Homo sapiens: one gene and its partners. The protein of the gene in region 3 interacts with the protein of the main gene of each other region in a pairwise test. Each region holds a gene or a part of one and is shown on either strand. Other genes may lie near its edges.

The links. Proteins that work in one complex are often made in the same cells at the same time.
Region 1: the proteins of SPATA2L (region 3) and PARK7 interact in binary tests that used the Homo sapiens proteins (3 or more experiments, as listed by UniProt).
Region 2: the proteins of SPATA2L (region 3) and ATXN3 interact in binary tests that used the Homo sapiens proteins (3 or more experiments, as listed by UniProt).

Annotation. Positions count from the first base shown.
Region 1 is NC_000001.11:7,957,157-7,964,710, forward strand, and holds the start of PARK7 (Parkinson disease protein 7), read left to right. Parts: upstream 1-4,554; 5' UTR 4,555-4,637; exon of another isoform or gene 4,638-4,925; intron 4,926-5,606; 5' UTR 5,607-5,629; coding exon 5,630-5,719; intron 5,720-7,554. UniProt on the Homo sapiens protein: Multifunctional protein with controversial molecular function which plays an important role in cell protection against oxidative stress and cell death acting as oxidative stress sensor and redox-sensitive chaperone and protease.
Region 2 is NC_000014.9:92,058,052-92,061,582, forward strand, and holds the end of ATXN3 (ataxin-3 reference isoform), read right to left. Parts: 3' UTR 501-3,531; downstream 1-500. UniProt on the Homo sapiens protein: Deubiquitinating enzyme involved in protein homeostasis maintenance, transcription, cytoskeleton regulation, myogenesis and degradation of misfolded chaperone substrates.
Region 3 is NC_000016.10:89,698,591-89,705,978, forward strand, and holds the start of SPATA2L (spermatogenesis-associated protein 2-like protein), read right to left. Parts: upstream 3,116-7,388; 5' UTR 3,038-3,115; exon of another isoform or gene 2,901-3,037; intron 2,644-2,900; 5' UTR 2,643-2,643; coding exon 2,340-2,642; intron 1-2,339.

The DNA of each region.
Region 1 (7,554 bases), on a different chromosome or scaffold from region 3:
CCACACTCCAGCCTGGGTGACAGAGAGACTCAAAAAAAAAGTTTACCACGCAGACTGGATCAAAAAAGCCTGTCTTCTTTTGGTTTTCCTTCCATCTAACTGTATCCCTCCTTGGTTCTAGAAGCACACATCTGACCACTTGTCTTTCCTCTTTCTCTGTCATTCCTGTTTTCCACACTCCTTCACAGCTGCTTCCTTTGCAAATAGCCAAAAGTGAAGTCATTCCAGAACTCCTAAAAGTTTCTTCTTAAATGTCATATGATTAAAGACATTTCAGACTTTTGCACAAGTTCAGTGTTCATCAATTATTCACATTTTTTTTTTTTTTTTTTAGAGACACAGTCTCACTCTGTCATCCAGCCTGGAGTGCAGTGGCATGAGATCATGACCCACTGCAGCCTTGACCTCCTGGGCTCAAGTGATTCCCCCGCTGCGCTGTCAGCCTCTCAAGTAGCTGGGACCCATAGGCGTGTAATTTTTAAAATTTTTTGTAGAGACAGGGTCTTGCCATGTTGTCCAGGCTGGTCCCCAACTCCTGGGCTCAAACAATCCTCCCGCCTCGGCCTCCCAGAGTGTTGGGATGAGACACCCCGCACAGCTCCAATTTTTAAAATTAAATAAAATAACACACTCACCATCATTGTAAGAATCACATGAAATATACCAAAGTGCTTTGTAAACTAACAAAAAATTTATTTCTTGAAATAAATGTGGCCAGGTGCAGTGGCTCACAACTGTAATCCCAGCACTTTGGGAGGCCGAGGTGGGCAGATCACTTGAGGTCAGGAGTTTGAGACCAGTTTGGCCAACATGGTGAAACCCCGTCTCTAATAAAAATACAAAAATTAGTTGGGCATGATGGTGCACGCCTGTAGTCCCAGCTACTCGGGAGACTGAGGTACGAGAATTGCTTGAACCTGGGAGACAGAGGTTGCAGTGAGCCGAGATGGTGCCACTACACGCCAGCCTGGATGACAGAGCAAGACTCTGTCTCAAAACAAAAACAAAAACAAAACAAAGAAAATAAACGTGATTTTTTTTTTTTTTTTGAGACAAGAGTCTCGCTCTGTCACCCAGGCTGGAGTGTAGTGGTGCGATCTCAGCTCACTTCAGCCTCCGCCTCCCAGGTTCAAGCAATTCCCCTGCTTCAGCCTCCCGAGTAATTGGGACTACAGGTGCAAGCCACCATGCCCAGCTAATTTTTGTATTTTTAGTAGAGACCGGGTTTCACCATGTTGGCCAGGATGGTCTCGATCTCTTGACCTCGTGATCTGCCCACCTTGGCCTCCCAAAGTGCTGGGATTACAGGCACGCACCACCGCGCCTGGCCAGAAACGCGATTTTAATATCTAAATTGAAACCTTAAAAACACTGATGTATTTAGGCCAGGTGCTGTGGCTCACACCTGTAATCCCAGCACTGTGGGAGGCCGAGGTGGGCAGATCACTTGAGGTCAGGAGTTTGAGACTAGCCTGGCCAACATGGTGAAAGCTCATCTCTACTAAAAATACAAAAATTAGCCAGGCATGATGGCAGGTGCCTGCAATCCCAGCTACTCTAGAGGCTGAGGTGGGAGAATTGCTTGAACCTGGGAGGCGGAGGTTGCAATGAGCTGAGATTGCACCATTGCACTCCAGCCTGGGCAACAGAGCGAGACTCTGTCTCAAAAAAAAAAAAAAAAGAAAAGAAAAGAAATTACTAGAAGAAAACACTGGGGGGGGGGGGGCCAGGCACGGTGGCTCACACCTGTAATCCCAGCACTTTGGGAGGCTGAGGCAAGTGGATCACCTGAGGTTAGGAGTTCGAGACCAGCCTGGGAAACATGGTGAATCCCTGTCTGGACTAAAATACAAAAATTAGACAGGCATGATGGAGGGTGCCTGTAATCCCAGATACTCGGGAGGCTGAGACAGAGAATCGCTTGAACCCAGGAGACAGTGGTTGCAGTGAGCCAAGATTGCGCCACTGCACTCCAGCCTAGGCGGCTGAGCGAGACTCCATCTCAAAAAAAAAAAAAAAAGAAAAGAAAAGAAAGAAAACACTGGGGAAATGTTCCAGGGTATTGATCTGGGCAAAGACCTCAAAGCACAGACAACAAAAGCAAAAACAGACAAATGGAATTACATCAAACTAAAAAGTATATGCACAGCAAAGGAAACAACAAAGCAAAGAGACAACACACAGAATGGGAGAAAATATTTGCAAACTATCCATTTGATGAGGGACTAATGACTAGAATATATTAGGAGCTCAATAGCAAGAAAACAATCAGATTTAAAAGTGGGCAAAAGATCTGAATAGACATTTCTGAAGAGATACAAATGGCCAAGAGATATGAAAAAGGGCTCAATGTCACTAATCAGAGAAATGCAAATAAAGACAGTAAGATATCATCTCATCCCAGTTAAAATGGCCTTTATCAAAAAGGGAATAACATGCTGAGATGGATGTGAAGAAGGAACCTCATACACTGTTGGCGAGCATCTCAATTAGTGCAGCCACTATGGAAAACAATATGGAATCCTCAGAAGATTAACTTCTGAGAAATCATAAGTTCTGGAATCATAACTACCATATGATCCAGCAATCCCACTACCGGTATATACCAAAAAGAAAGGAAGGGCCAGGCACGGTAGCTCACGCCTATAATCCCAGCACTTTGGGAGGCCGAGGCAGGCAGATCACTTGGGGTCAGGAGTTCAAGACCAGCCTGGCCAACATAGTAAAACCCTGTCTCTACTAAAAATACAAAAATTAGCCAGGCATGGTGGCACACACCTGTAGTCTCAGCTACTCGAAAGACTGAGGCACGAGAATTGTTTCAACACAGAGGCAGAGGTTGCAGTGAGCCAAGATGGTGCCACTGCACTTCAGGCTAGGCGACAGAGCAAGATGGAGTCTCAAAAAAAAAAAAAAAGAAAGAAAATCAATATATCAAAGAGATATTTGCACTCCTATGCTTATTGTAGCACTGTTCACAACAGTCAAAATATGGAATCAACCAAAATGTTCATCAATGGATGACTGGATAAATAAAATGTAAATATACACAATGAATACTATTCAGCCATAAAAAATAATAAAATCCTATTTGCAACAACATTGATGGAACTGGAGGTCATTATGTTAAGTGAAACAAGCCAGGCAAAGAAAGACAAGCATCACATGATTTCACTCATAAATGGGAAGTTGAAAAGTGGATATCATGAAGATAAGTTGGTGGTTACCAGAGGCCAGGAAGGGTAGCCAGGAGAAGGGGATGAACAGGGTGATTAATAGGTACAAAAATTGGTAGAAGTGCTGGGCAAGGTGTCAAGAGCCCCAGCATCAGAAAGTGGTCGACTTGCTGGTTGGTAAGAAGAATTTATCGACAACAATATAGGTTTGAAAAAGGAAAGTTTTATTAGAACGCTGCAGAAGAGTGCAGCCTCAGCAAGAGAGAACTGAGCATGCCGCGGTGGATTTTTCATGTCCCTTTTCGAATGTCTCATTTTTTGCAAATTCAATCCAAGTTGCGTTCATTTAGCCAGGATCCTTCTAAGCTCATTCAAGAATTTTGGGCTTTAACTATTTCCTTTGATTTAACCTGGTACCAGGTGCCAACTTTAGATAATAGGGATATCTAATTACTTCTAAATTCCTCAGATAAGGGGCCTGCTTGATGGTCACCAGGTGATCTGTGCTCTCCTTAAGAGGGAATAAGACCTAGCGTTGGCAGAGTTCTGTAGGGTGACTATAGTTAACAGTAATCTGTTGTATATTTTAAAATGTTATTATTGAAGAGAGTAACTGGAATGTTCCCAGTATAAAGACAAATGTTTAAGGTGATAGAGATCTCATTTACCCTGATTTAATCATTACACATTATATGAAAGTATCAAAATACCACATGTACCCAGAAAACACATACGTCTCTTACATATCAATAAATACAACTTGAGATTATGATGTAAATACATCTGACCAACTTGGTACTTATTAGACTTATGTGCGCAGCACTGCTCTAGTCCTGTGGGTGCAGCAGCATCAGGATCGTTAAAGAAAACAAACAATGCTGAGAAAAAAACTCACACCCCTGAGACATCCGGGTGTGAATAAATGCGGCAGAGTCGCCCGAGATCGGGAGACCAGGCGTGGGGGAGAGGTCCGGGAGGCCTGGACCAGAGTCCTAACAGACCAGAGGCGAAACGGGAAGGCGCGCCAGAAAAGGAACAACGCAAAGGGAGCAGGCGTGCACGGAGCGCGAACTAAGGAACCCCTCTGACAACCCCAGTCCCTCGGCAGTTCCAGAGACCGGCTCCTCACGGAGGGTGGCGGTAGAGACTGTTAAGCCCCGCGGGCGCCGGGGCAGGCCGGACTGTGCCATTCGTGGGGGGTACCATGTGGGACCGAGCCGCCTCACCCAGGGCTGTCCAGCTAGAAACTCCCCGGTGCCACCCCCGCCTCAGTCCGAGGTAGACTCGGCCGGACGTGACGCAGCGTGAGGCCAAGGCGGCGTGAGTCTGCGCAGTGTGGGGCTGAGGGAGGCCGGACGGCGCGCGTGCGTGCTGGCGTGCGTTCATTTTCAGCCTGGTGTGGGGTGAGTGGTACCCAACGGGCCGGGGCGCCGCGTCCGCAGGAAGAGGCGCGGGGTGCAGGTCAGCGCCAGCGGGGGCGCGGCGCATGTGTGGGCCGTGGCGCTGGGCGGCGTGGGGGTGCTGGACGGTGTCCCTGTGCTGGACGGTGTCCCGCTGGCTCAGAACCGGCGCGGGGCCTGGGTCGGGGCCGCCCTCGCTTCCGGCCTCCCAGTCGGGCCCTGTCGCTGGCGTTGGATTTGACTGACCGCCAGCGTGGTGGCAACGCTGAAGCGTCCAGAATCTTCTGCCTAACCTCTCGCCGGCATGGAACTGGCTAGCCGTTTTATTAAACTCTGTTTTGCGTGGACGGTAAACCCTCCAGATAATCTGTAAATAGGCTAAAAAAAATTCGGAACCTCGTTGAGCTGCTGTCGTTGGCAGTGAGAACTCCGCGCAGAGAGACAGATGTAGTTGGGTTGACTTCAGTGAGGGGATTTCCATCTTTCTCAGTCATTAAAAAAAGTGTTCAGACATTTAACACTGTTGACCCCCACACACAATTTTTTAGTACAGTTATAACTAAGAAAACAAAAATCCCCTCCAAAAAATTACAAGTTAATTGCGAAAGACCACATTTAAATTTTTGCCCATGAAATTCAGTTTAGTCGTTTCTCTGAAACAGTGCTTCAAAAAAGACTGTTTCCCCGCATTGTGTGAAATGCAGGAGACCCACGTACTTGTATTTTTAAAAAACCCATTTGCAACATACTATTAAAGTTGGATTTAAGAGAACATGGTAGAAGAAAATCTAAGCAATACTACACCTTTTAGCACCCTCATTATGTTTTCATCTCAGAGCAATTAAAACTGCTATACAAATCAACGTTAAGATAACTAAACTGCTGCTTTTTTCGTATTCAGTTGTCTATGAAAACCGTTTCCCTAGGAAGTACTTACTCTGCTTGAAAATGCTCCTAAACTTTAAATTTTGGGGTATCTCAGGGTTGCAATGAAAGTTTTTTGAAATCTTTTTTTTTTTTTTTTTTTAAGGCTTGTAAACATATAACATAAAAATGGCTTCCAAAAGAGCTCTGGTCATCCTGGCTAAAGGAGCAGAGGAAATGGAGACGGTCATCCCTGTAGATGTCATGAGGCGAGCTGGGGTAAGTCCCACATCGATTTTTAGCCATTCCTGTTTTAAATGTTTTTGGATTTTTAAATCATTTTGAATAAAATATTCAAAGTGCTCTATGAAATATTTCAAATATACACAAAATTTCAGAGATGACATAAGAATAAATACCTGTTGATCCACTGCTCACATTTAACGCTTGTTAATGTCTTGCCATATTTCCTTCAGACCCATTTCTCTTTTGTTTTGAGCTCTGTCGTCCAGGCTGGAGTGCGATGGCAGGATCTTGGCTCATTTCGGTCTCTGCCTCCTGGGCCCAAACCATCTTCCCACCTCAGCCTCCCAAATAGCTGAGACTACAGATGCGTGCCACCACACCTGGCTAATTTTTGTATGTTTTGTAGAGACAGGGTTTTGCCATGTTGCCCAGGCTGCTCTCCAACTCCTGAGCTCAAGTTGTCCACCCGCCTCAGGCCTCCCAAAGTGTTAGGACTACAGGCGTGAGCCACTGCACTGTCCTTAGACCCATTTCTTTTTTCTTCTTTTTTTTTTTTTTTGAGATGGTGTCTCTCTGTGTCGCTCAGCCTGGAACGCAGTGGTGTGATCTCTGCTCGCTGCAACCTCTGCCTCCCGGGTTCAAGAGATTCTCCTGCCTCACCCTCAGCTGGGATTACAGGTGTCCGCCACCACGCCCGGCTAATTGTATTTTTAGTACAGATGGGGTTTCACCATGTTGGCCAGGTTGGTCTCGAACTCCTGGCTTCAAGTGACCCGCCCGCCTTAGCCTTTTACAGTGCTGGGATTACAGGCAGGAGCCACCATGCCCGGCCCCTCAGACTCGTTTCTTAAAGAGCAGATGCTTCAAAGAAATACATTTGAAGCCCCCTTTGTAAATTTCTCCAATCCTATGCCCCTTCTTCCTTCCTTAAAGATAAGTGCTATCCTCGCACTCTTGTGTATCCATGCATGTGTGTCTTTTTTTTTTTTTTTAAGACAGAGTCTTGCTCTGTCACCCAGGCTGGAGTGCAGTGGTGTGACCTCAGCTCACTGCAACTTCTGCCTCCTGGGTTCAAGCAGTTCTCTGCCTCAGCCTCCCAAGTAGCTGGGATTACAGGTGCGCACCACCATGCCTGGCTAATTTTTTGTATTTTTAGTAGATGGGGTTTCACCATCTTGGCCAGGCTGGTCTTGAACTCTTGACCTCGTGATCCACCCACCTCGGCCTCCCAAAGTGCTGTGATTACAGATGTGAGCTACTGCACCCGCCCCCACGCATGTCTTTAAGGTAGCATTTGACCGTGGTTCTCATTTTGCGTGTTTATATATTATCTCTCTCTATCTAAAAATAGTGAACAGTGAAGTGAAGTAGAACTAACTCTGTGCCAGGCAGCATTCTAAGTGCCGATAAACCTTACAACAATGTCGTGAGTTAGATATCACCATCCTCATTTTACAGTTGAAGAAACTGAGGCACAGAGACATAAATAATGTACCCACATCACGTAGTAAGTACAAAAGCCAGAACTCAGACCCAGGCAGCCTGGCCCCAGAGTCTGTTAACCCTATACTCCTCTGGTTCTCAGAAATGAAGATACATGTCGATTAAGTTTATCCACTTAAAATTGCTGCTTGGTGTTGCACTGAATGCCACAATCTACCCATTCCTCTAATTACAGCATTACAATTCTGTAATACGTATTCTTGTGTAGGTTTCTTTGTGCAAATGTGAGGAAATTTTTCCAGGTTATATATCTAAAAGTAGAATGACTAGGCCGAAGGATAGCCTGTAGTCAGCATGACTAGGTTTTGCCAAGTTGCTCTCCAGTGTCCCAGTTTGTAGTCCCACCAGCAGTGTAGGAAAATTCC
Region 2 (3,531 bases), on a different chromosome or scaffold from region 3:
TGGAATTCTTAGCTTCTCTTGGAAAAGACTGAGGATCCAGTAATAATGGACCTTTTGGCAGGCAGTAAGCTGGAATAGAATATCAATGGACTGTGCTGGCCTGCGTTATTCATATTCATCACTGCAGCTGGTTAAGAACAATCCACACAACAGCGCTTCTCAAGCTTCACTCTATACTTTAGTGTCCTGGGGATCTTGTAAAAAGTGCAAGTTCTGATTCAGTAGGTCCGAGTGTAGCCTGAAACTCTGCATTTCTGAAAGACTCACAGGTGATACAGATGCTGCTGGTCCTCCATCCATACTTTTTTCCTGTTTTGTCGCCCAGGCTAGAATTCAGTGGCAGGATCATAGCTCACTGCAGCCTCGAACTCCTAGGCTCAAGCAATCCTCCTGCTTCTGCCTCCTGGGTAGCTGGAACTGTAGATGCAAGCCACCAAGCCCAGCTCTAATCACACTTTGAATAGCTATGAATTAACAATAAACACAAATTCAAAAGGAAATAGAAAAGCAAACATTATCTTTATTTAATAATCTTTGATATTTAAAATACAACTCATTGAACATCCACACTAACAACAGAATCCTGTGTTCAACAGTGCTTTGGAAGCCCGGCTTTTCTAACGACCAGACAGGAAGGCCTGTGTGTGTAATAACAGCAAATGAACTTAACGAGGGAGCACACACAGAAGGGCTGCAGGGCTGGGTCCTGAGCAAGCGGCACTGCCACAGTGCACTTGTATCATGGCCAAACAACAATGCTTTTTGTTTCAGATATTTTCTGTACTTGAATTTCAAATATTTATACAGAACAGTAATTTTTAAAAAGTTATTCCTAATAGCCCAGTGTTGTAAAAATTAGATAATCACATTTAAAAATGTATGTTTTCCTCTTTCAAAAAAAAAAAAAGCATTAAAAAAATTCAGAAAACATTCCTTGAACTATGCAAGAGACAATTGAGAGCTTCCTAAATGCATCAGGAATATCCATTTATATTTTACTAATGTTTCTCATTGCTTTGTCTATGAATCCACAGGCTTAAAATGTTTTTTGATATGCTATTAAACATGCCAATTACGACAAATTTAGAAGTTACGTTATTAGCACTAATTCTTAAAATGCCAGACCACTTGGAAAAAATAATAATAGCAAAGATTTTCTTCAAATTAAAAAACAAAATCAAAATTCTAGAATTTACCAACGATGTCAATAATCTTCACTCATGAAAGCAAATTAGAACAAAAATATTTTTATTATGTTTAAGACTAAAAAAATACAAAGCCAGGTCATTTTTTAAAGCAAAAAGATGCTGGTTATAAAGGGGCCAGAAATAAAAGAAAGTTTTTATTTTGAATATGAAAAATAAAGTTATTTACATTGCTGACATGATTAGTTGATCCAATCTGGTAGTTCTTAATTAGGGTCACATATATATCCATACTTAAGGACTCGATACAACAAACAATTCACTTTGAAAACAGTGGCCCAAGGCCGGGTGTGGTGGCCTGCACCTGTAATCCCAGCACTTTGGGAGGCCAAGGCAGGCAGATCACCTGAGGTCAGGAGTTTGAGACCAGCCTAACATGGTAAAAGCCCGTCTCTACTAAAAAAAACAAATATTCGCCAGGTGTAGTGGCAGGTGCCTGTAATCCCAGGTACTTGGGAGGCTGAGGCAGGAGAATCGCTTGAACCCAGGAGGTGGAGGTTGCAGTGAGCCAACATCGTGTCATTGTACTCCAGCCTGGGCAGCAGAGCTAGACTCCGTCTCAGAAAAAAAAAAAAAGAAAGAAAGAAAGAAAGAAAAAGAAAATAGCGGCCCAACGCCTCTTCGTTTCCGGATTAAAAAAAAACAAACAAACCTTTAAGATGGAGTTTTACTCTTGTTGCCCAGGCTAGAGTGCAATGGCACGATCTCAGCTCACTGCAACCTCCACCTCCTGGGTTTAAACGATTCTCCTGCCTCAGCCTCCCAAGTAACTGGGATTACAGGTGCCCGCCACCATACCTGGCTTAAGTTTTGTATTTTTAGTAGAGATGGGGTTTCACCATGTTGGCCAGGCTGGTCTCAAACTCCGGACTTCAGGTGATCCACCTGCCTCAGCCTCCCAAAGTGTTGGGATTACAGGCGTGAGCCACTGCCCCCGACTGGGATAAAGTTTTTAATAGGAAGTCATATATATATACATATATATATACACACATATATATATATATATATATATTTTTTTTTTTCAGAAACAGTGTCTCACTCTGTTGGGCAGGCTGGAATGCAGTGGTGAGCCCTTGGCACTCTGCAACCTCTGCCTCCTAGGCTCATGCGATTCTTAGCCTCCTGAGTAGCTGGGATTACAAGTGTGTGCAACCACGCCCGGCTAATTTTTGTATTTTTAGTAGAAACGAGGTTTCACCATGTTGCCCAGACTGGTCTTGAACTCCTGGCCTGAAGTGATTCGCCCACCTCAGCCTCCAGAACTGCTGGGATTACAGGCGTGAGCCACTGCACCCAGCCGGGAGATCATCAATATTAACTATTGAATCCTCGTAAGAATTTAAAACATCAAGATTTATTTTTCTACTTAAGATTTTAAAATTATCATATTTTGATTATGCACTGAATCTATTTTTTATCTGTACAGGTCCAATGGGCCGGTTTTAAGAATTTAGTAGCTCTTGGCACTAGCATGATTTTTTTTTTTTTTTTGAGACAGAGTCTCACTCTGTCGCCCAGTCTGGAGTACAGTGGCACCATCTTGGCTCACTGCATCCTCTGTCGCCAGGGTTCAAGCAATTCTCCTGCCTCAGACTCCCAGGTAGCTGGGATTACAGGCACCTGCCACCGCGCCCAGCTAATTTTTGTAGTTTTTAGTACAGATGGGGTTTCACCATTTTGGCCAAGCTGGTCTCGAACTCCCGACCTCGTGATCCACCCACTTCGGCCTCCCAAAATGCTGGGATTACAGGCGTGAGCTACCACGCCCAGCCGCCACTAGCATGATTTTAAAAATAGTATCAAAAATTCAGACAATCAAAATGTGATTTAGGCTCTGACTGAAATAAAATTTATTTTATTCAACTTAATATTAAACAATATGGACTACTGGTAGTTTTGTCTGCAATGATACTCAACTGGTTTTGAGTTTTTTTCCTCATTTACTTTGGCATCATGAATAAAGTTAAGAAAAATCAAGTTTTAAGGACAAAAAAAAAAAGCACCACCTTAAATAAAATATTCTGTGAATTGTAAATTATTTGGCCAAGATCCTAGTATAGAGTTTACCTGCAGCAGCCTTTTCAAACAGTTTATATTACTGAAATATTTACATGATTACCGTAAAAAACATAGATTGATGGTTTTAGATCAGAGATTAACTATTCTGAATTTTAAAAACATAAATTACTCATTAAATCCATGACATCTGAAAATATGAAAGTGGTATTTCCAAGGCTTAAACTTCTACTAGCATCACCACTGTACATACTTGATCCCAGTAATACAAATTATACATTAGAAAAATGATACCAATAGTTTAAAT
Region 3 (7,388 bases):
GTTCCCCTGCCTCAGCCTCCCGGGTAGCTGGGACTACAGGCGCCCACCACCACACCCGGCTAATTTTCATATTTTTAGTAGAGACAGGGTTTCACCATGTTGGCCATGCTGGTCTCAAACTCCTGACCTCAAGTGATCCGCCTGCCTTGAGCTCCCAAAGTGCTGGGATTACAAGCGTGAGCCACTGTGCCCGGCCTAGAATTTTTTTTTTTTTTTCTTTTTTGAGACAGAGTCTCGCTCTGTCTGGAGTACAGTGGCACGATCTCGGCTCACTACAACCTCCTCCTCCCGGGTTCAAGCGATCTTCCTGCCTCAGCCTCCTGAGTAGCTGGGATTACAGGTGCGCACCACCACGCCCCACTAATTTTTGTATATTTAGTAGAGACGGGGTTTCACCATGTTGACCAGGAAGGTCTTGATCCCTTGACCTCATGATCCACCCACCTTGGCCTCCCGAAGTGCTGGGATTACAGGTGTGAGCCACCGCACCTGGCCGAATTTCTTAAATTTAATGGAAAAAACAATGAATACATTAACCTAGCTCACAAATCAGAACAAAATGAAGAGCCCCTGTACTGAGAAATTCCACTGTCTTCTGTCCCACCGCTCCCTTCACCCCTGGAGATGGCCTCATCTAATTAGTTTTGAATGTACTTGCCCAGGTGTTTGTTTTGCAAACCCAAATACAGATTTCGTTTGCTCCTCGTATGAGGTAGTCCCCCCTTTTTTTTCACCTCTTTGTAAGGTCTCTAACCAAAGCTAGACAGGTAGCCTCTTAAACGTGTTGTTCTGAACTTTGTTTTTTTCCACTACAGTCTTGCAGACAAGGACAGAAGCTGTAACGTTCATTCCCCCTGCTGTGTAGTATTCCACCATGGGGGTGACACGTCTGTTTTCAGCGCTCTCCAGAGGCTGTCCATGCACTGGGCTGACAGCCGTGGGACGGTAGAAGGGTGAGTGCTCTTTTTTTTTTTTTTTTGAGACGGAGTCTCACTCTGTCACCAGGATGGAGTGCAGTGGCTCGATCTCTGCTCACTACAACCTCCACCTCCCAGGTTCAAGTGATTCTCCTCCCTCAGCCTCCTGAGTAGCTGGGATTACAGGCGCGTGCCACCACACCCAGCTCATTTTTGTATTTTTTAATAGAGACGGGGTTTCACCATGTTGGTTAGGCTGGTGTCAATCTCCTGACCTCGTGATCTGCCCACCTCGGCCTCCCAAAGAGCTGGGATTACAGGCGTGAGCCACCGCGCCCGGCCTGGCTGAGTGCTTTCTAGCCTACACTTAGGTGAAGAACTAAAGGAGCTCAGGACAATCACTGCGAGCGTCTCCTGACTCTCAAATTCCCTAACTCCGGGACTCCTAGCATCTAATGCCTGGACACGGCCCACGTGTGGAGCGCCCAGTGCCTGCAGCACTGAGCTCGGGGCTTTGATTCATTCCTCTGGCCCCATGAACTGGACTGTTCCCGTGTCGCTGTCTCAGGAGGAAAGGGGCTGACAGAGATTAGCTAATTTGGCCAAGTCCTCGCGGCCAGGAAGCAGCAGAACTAAGTCCAAACCAGGGCTGTCCGGCACTGAAGCCGGTTATTCCCCCGCCCCGCCCCCTGGGAGGCCTCAAGGGCGGGCCTGTCCGTCCTCTCTCATGAATGAAAGTCCTGGCGCCTCCGACCAGCAGGTGTCCCCGGGGAGCCGCGGAGAGACTGCCGCTGCCATGGCAACCGGCGGAGGCGTAGCTCGCCCACGTGCCCAGTGACGTCATCGGCTTCCTACTCTTCCGAATTAGCTCAGAGCTCCCGGCGGCCCTGCCCCCTCCTGCCGCCAGGAGCTCACCTGGAGAGGCCAGGCCAGCCCTGGGCACAGCCTCCCGCCCCAGGCCGTGGAGTTCACTAGGTCTGAGCCCAGCCCTGAGACTTCACAGGGATGCACCCATCTGCAGTCCTCCCAGCCTCGGCGGCCTCCTCTGCAAATGGGATTGGCCCATAACCTGGAGGAATTAGGATGACCATGGGAACTCAAGTCCCTTCTGTGCCCCCGTCCTAAGATTTCCATGGCAACTGGGGCCGCGAGGCCTCTTAGGGAAGACACTGACGCAAGCTCTCAGGGCAGGACCCCGTAGGCAGCACCCAAGCCTGCCCTCGCCCACCCCATGTTCTCAGCCCTAGGAGTGGGTGCCCCCACACGCCCACGACCCCTCAGCGCTCGGAGCCTTGAGGAGCCCACCAGGCACTGAGGACACTTGAAGCCCCTCTCTCTCGAAAGGCGTGGTCCCCCATGGTCGGCGGCCCCGCGACCCGCAGGCCAGGACGAGGGGCGCGCTCCTCCTGGCCTGGCGCCTACCTTGATGGTGGTGAACTCCTTCCTCCAGGGCAGCAGGTACAGGTGCACCGCGGCGAGCTCCAGAAGCTCGAAGGCGCGAGCCAGGCCGCGTAGCGCGGGCGCCAGGTCGGCGCGGCCCCACAGCCCGTCGGTGAGCAGAGCCAGCGCGTCGTCCTGCAGCGCCCCGTGCAGGTCGAAGTCCTCCACCAGGATCTGCCAGAGCACCGCGCGCAGCGAGGGGTCCCCGCACACGCCCGCGCGGCCCCGTCGCAGCTCGCGCTCCAGGCACTGGCGGTAGTCCTCGGACAGCGAGCTGCTGCCCATCCTGCGGCGGACGGGGGTCGGGGGGGTCAGGGACCTAAGGCCGCGCCCAGCCCGCCGCGCTCTCCCCGAACCCTCACCCAGCGTCCCCAGGACCCCTCGAGCCTGGAGACCCCGCCCCCAGCGGCTGGGCGCCCCCGGTATCTTCGGCACCCCCTACGCTGGAGACCTCGGCCCCATCAGCTGCCCGCCCACCCAGCGATCCAGGCCCCTCCAGTTGAGCGCCCCCGCACCTCCAGCCCCTCCCTCCAGCCTGGGTACCTCGGCCTTCCAGGGGCGCCCCCGGTTATCGACCGCACCCTTCTCTAGAGACGCGCTTCCGCCCGCTGAGCCCTCTCCCGACCAGAGCCCCTTCGCCCGGCAGATGGAGCTGCGGATCCCGCGGGTGACGGCGCTACCTGTCTGTCCCCAGCGGTCTCCGGCCGCCGCGGATCAGTTCGGGCCTCCCCGCGCGCCGCGCGCTTCCGCCGGGAGTCGGCTCCGCCCGGGGTCCGCGGCCGTGACGCTGGGGGCGGGGCGGGGCTTGGCGCAGGCCCCGCCTCCGAATAATTTAGGAGGGGCGGGGCCTGGTGAAAGGGGAGGAGGAGGTGTCAGCCCGGCCGAGCCCCTGCGCGAGGCACCCCGAGAGCCTCCTGTCACCGCGTCGCCCGTCTCCTCGCGGGACCGGTATCGTTCACGACGCCGCTGGGCCGAGGGCTGCGGGCTCATGGCAGGCGCTCAGGGAACGTTGTGCCTGGGCCGCTCCTCCCCACGAGACAGGGACCCAGCCCCAGGCGACCCGGCCGCGGGGAAGCAGGTGCGCGGGCTCGTCCCCTGGGGGGTGGGGCCACCGGCATTACCTGGCGGGGATTGGCTGGATCCTGGGAAGAGCCTTTCCTGCGGGGCGGGGCCACCTGCATTACCTGGCGGGGATTGGCCGGATCCGGGGGCGGGCCTCCCCTGTGGGGCGGGGCCATCCCCTTGAGGGAGGGGCCCGCGGCACGGAAGGTGGGCGGAAGGACAAGCCTTTCAGCCTCGTCTGAAACAGCAGCCTCAGGTGGATGCGGGGACCTCAGATTCTGTTTATGCTGGCTCCGCTTCCCGGCCTCCTGCACTTGCCATCTGCAGCCCTTGAGAGCATCGTCTGGGCGGGTCTCTGAGGCAGGGCGAAGCCGCCCCCCTCTCTAGGCTAAAAGCTGACCTGGGCTGCGGATCCACCCAGGCTAAATCTGGGCCACGACTTCCCGGGGACGTTTTCTTCGCTCGGGTTCCTCTGTTCTGTGCTACAGCCACTTTCTCGCATTGCCCAGAAGTAGAGGAGGATGAGGGAGACCCTTGGAGGTCCCAGCCGAAACCCACCCCTACCCCACACCCCCGCTTTGGGCAGGCTTTGCTACTTCACGTCTGTGTCCCTCATCTCTCCAGGCCACCAAAACCAAGGCCCAAGTTTGTTGAAACTTTCCCTGGGCCTGGGCGGCGAGGTCCCCCCTTTTTCTTAGATTTTTTACCTGGAAGTTCCCTGCTGGCATCTTAGAAATAGTGATCATGACCGGGTGCGGTGGCTCACGCCTGTAATCCCAGCACTTTGAGAGGCCGAGGCGGGCGGATCACCTGAAGTCAGGAGTTCAAGACCAGCCTGGCCAACATGGTGAAACCCCGTCTCTATTAAAAATACGAAAGTTAGCCGGGCGTGGTGGCACATGTCTGTAAGCCCAGCTACTTGGGAGGCTGAGGCAGGAGAATTACTTGAACCTGGGAGGCAGAGGTTGCGGTTGCAGTGAGCTAAGATCGTGCCACTGCACTCCAGCCTGGGTGACAGAGCGAGAATGTCTGGAAAAAAAAATCGTGATGCAGTCGGTGGATCTCCCTGAGTTATCTAGGTGGCCACCTCTGGACAGGGAGCTCTTTTACTTACTGTTTACTGAACTCACTCTTGGTGCCCAGTGCCACCATGGGTCCACACCAGTCCTCAGGACAGCTAACTTCGTAAGTCTCATCTTTATTCTTCTTCTGATGCGGAGGAGGGTGGAGGTAACTGTTCTGCCTTTGTCCTCACTGAATTTGGCAACACCAGTCCATCCATCCAGCAGTGGGCCTAGCTCTCCTCCCATAGGCCTGGGTGGGTTTTTGCACCTGCCTCAACCCATGGAATAGAACTGATGTGGAATGAATTCCAAGGCTAAATCATAAACATGCCATACCCTGGCCTTGTCTTGAGATCCTTGGCCTCTGACATGGTTTGGTTCTGTATCCACACCCAAAATCTCATCTTGAATTGTAATCCCACAGGTCTGGAGCAGGACCAGGTGGAGATAATTAAATCTTGGGGGCAGCTTCCTCCATGCTGTTCTCGTGATAGTGAATTCCACGAGATCCGATGGTTTTATAAGGGGTTCTCCCCTTTGTTCAGTGCTCATTCTCGCTCCTGTCGCCCTGTGAGGAGACGCCTTCTGCCATGATTGTGAGTTTGCTGAGGCCTTCCCCAGCCATGCGGAACTGTGAGTCAATTAAACGTCTTTTCTTTATAAATTATCCAGCCTCAGGCAGCTATTTACAGCAGCATGGGGACGGACTAACACACCCTCAGAACCCAGCCACTAGAGTGAGAAGGCCACGGCCGTGTGCAGAGCTTTTGGCCTGCAACTTCGACCTGCGACTCACATTCACCTGCAGCCTATTCTTGGGACTTTTTTGGAAATAGTTTTTCCAGACAAAAATCAAGATGAGTTTGTTCTGGGCCGAGCGCAGTGGCTCACGCCTGTAATCCCAGCACTCTGGAAGACCGAGGCAGGTGGATCACGAACTCAGGAGATCGAGACCATCCTGGCTAACACACTGAAACCCCATCTCTACTAAAAAATACAAAAAATTAGCTGGGCGTGGTGGCGGGCATCTGTAGTCCCAGCTACTCGGGAGACTGAGGCAGGAGAATGGCGTCAACCCAGGAGGCGGAGCTTGCAGTGAGCCGGGATCGCGCCACTGCACTCCAGCCTGGGCCACAGAGCAAGACTCTATCTCAAAAAAAAAAAAAAAAAAAGGATGAGGTTGTTCTGGGTTGGCATGGGCCCTCAATCCAGTATGACTGCTGTCCTTATGAGGAGAGAGAAACTTAGATATGAACGCACAGGAGAGAAGACCGCTTAAAGACGGAGGCAGAGTGGAACGAGGGTGCCGTGAGCGAAGGTAACACAGCTGTGTTAGAGCCACCAGAAACTGGAGGCAAACAGAATTCTACCCTAAAGCCTCCAGAGGGAGTCAGCCCTGCTGACAGCTTGATTTTGACTTCAGGCCTGCAAGATGGTGAGAGAGAACATTTCTGTTGCTGTAAGCCACCCATTTTGTGGTCGTTTTGGCAGCCCCTGGCAACACATCCAGTCCTCACGTCGTCGTTCCGACAGCCCTGAATGAGGTCCCAGCCGACAGCTGGCACCAACCATAGACAGCAGACAGCTCTTCGGATGAATCCAACCCCTGGTCATTGGGTTACCACCTAGAAACAGCCTCCCATGATGCTGAGGAGCCATCTGGCTGATTTTTGTACTTTTTGTATTTTCAGCAGAGACAGGGCTTCACTATGTTGGCCAGGCTGGTCTCAAACTCCTGACCTCAGGTGATCCACCTACCTCGGCCTCCCACAGTGCTGGGATTGCAGGCGTGAGCCACGGTGCCCAGCCTAATTTTTAACTTTTTAGTAGAGAGGGGGGCCTTACTATGTTGCCCAGGCTGGTCTCAAACTCCTGGGCTCAAGTGATCCCCCCGCCTCAGCCTTCCGAAGTGCTGGGATTCCAGGTGTGAACCACCATGCCTGGCGTCTTGAGTATTTAAGCCCCTGAGTTGGGGTAGTTTGTTAGGCAGCGGTGGCTACGTGGGCTGTACACATTCACGGCTCCCTCCCTTCCTGCCCGGGGATGGACACTCCATGAGCTGCCGTGTGGATTCTCCGTCCTTCCCTGCCCTCCCGGGACAGACACTCCATTGCCTCCACTGCATATACATCCTCTAAAACCGGCAGCAGCCTTGCCAGGTCGGAGGTTCCGTCCACACTTACCTGGACTCCAGGACTGCACCTGGTCCCCTGGGGCCACTGCCGTGTCCACCCCACAGTGTGCGTGAGCTCCCTCCCCCTCCTGTACTCAGCATCGTCCAGCTTCCTCATCTTCTCCGGTCCAATGGATATAAGGTTACATCTTGTTTACTTTTCATTTGATTTTTGTTATGATTTGGACACTGCTTATGCAGAATAGTTTTATTTTTATTTTTTTTTAGATGGAGTCTCGCTCTGTGCTCAGGCTGGAGTACAATGGCGTGATCTCGGCTCACTGCAGCCTCTGCCTCTCAGGTTCAAACAATTCTCCGGCCTCAGCCTCCTGAGTAACTGGGACTACCGCCACCACGCTCAGCTAATTTATGTATTTTTAGTAGAGACGGGGTTTCGCCATGTTGGCCGGGCTGGTCTCGAACTCCTGACCTCAAAAGAGCCGTCCGCCTCGGCTTCCCAAACCGCTGGGGTTACAGGCATGAGCCACTGCGCCCAGCCATTACTTTTTATTTTATTTTTATTTTTTGAGACGGAGTTTCTCTCTGTCGTCCAGGCTGGAGTGCAGTGGCACGATCTCAGCTCACTGCAACCTCTGCCTCTCAGGTTCACGCCATTCTCCCGCCTCAGCCTCCCGAGTAGCTGGGACTACAGGTGCGGGCCACCACGCCCGGCTGATTTTTTGTATTTTTAGTAGAGACGGGGTTTCACCGTGTTAGCCAGGATGGTCTTGA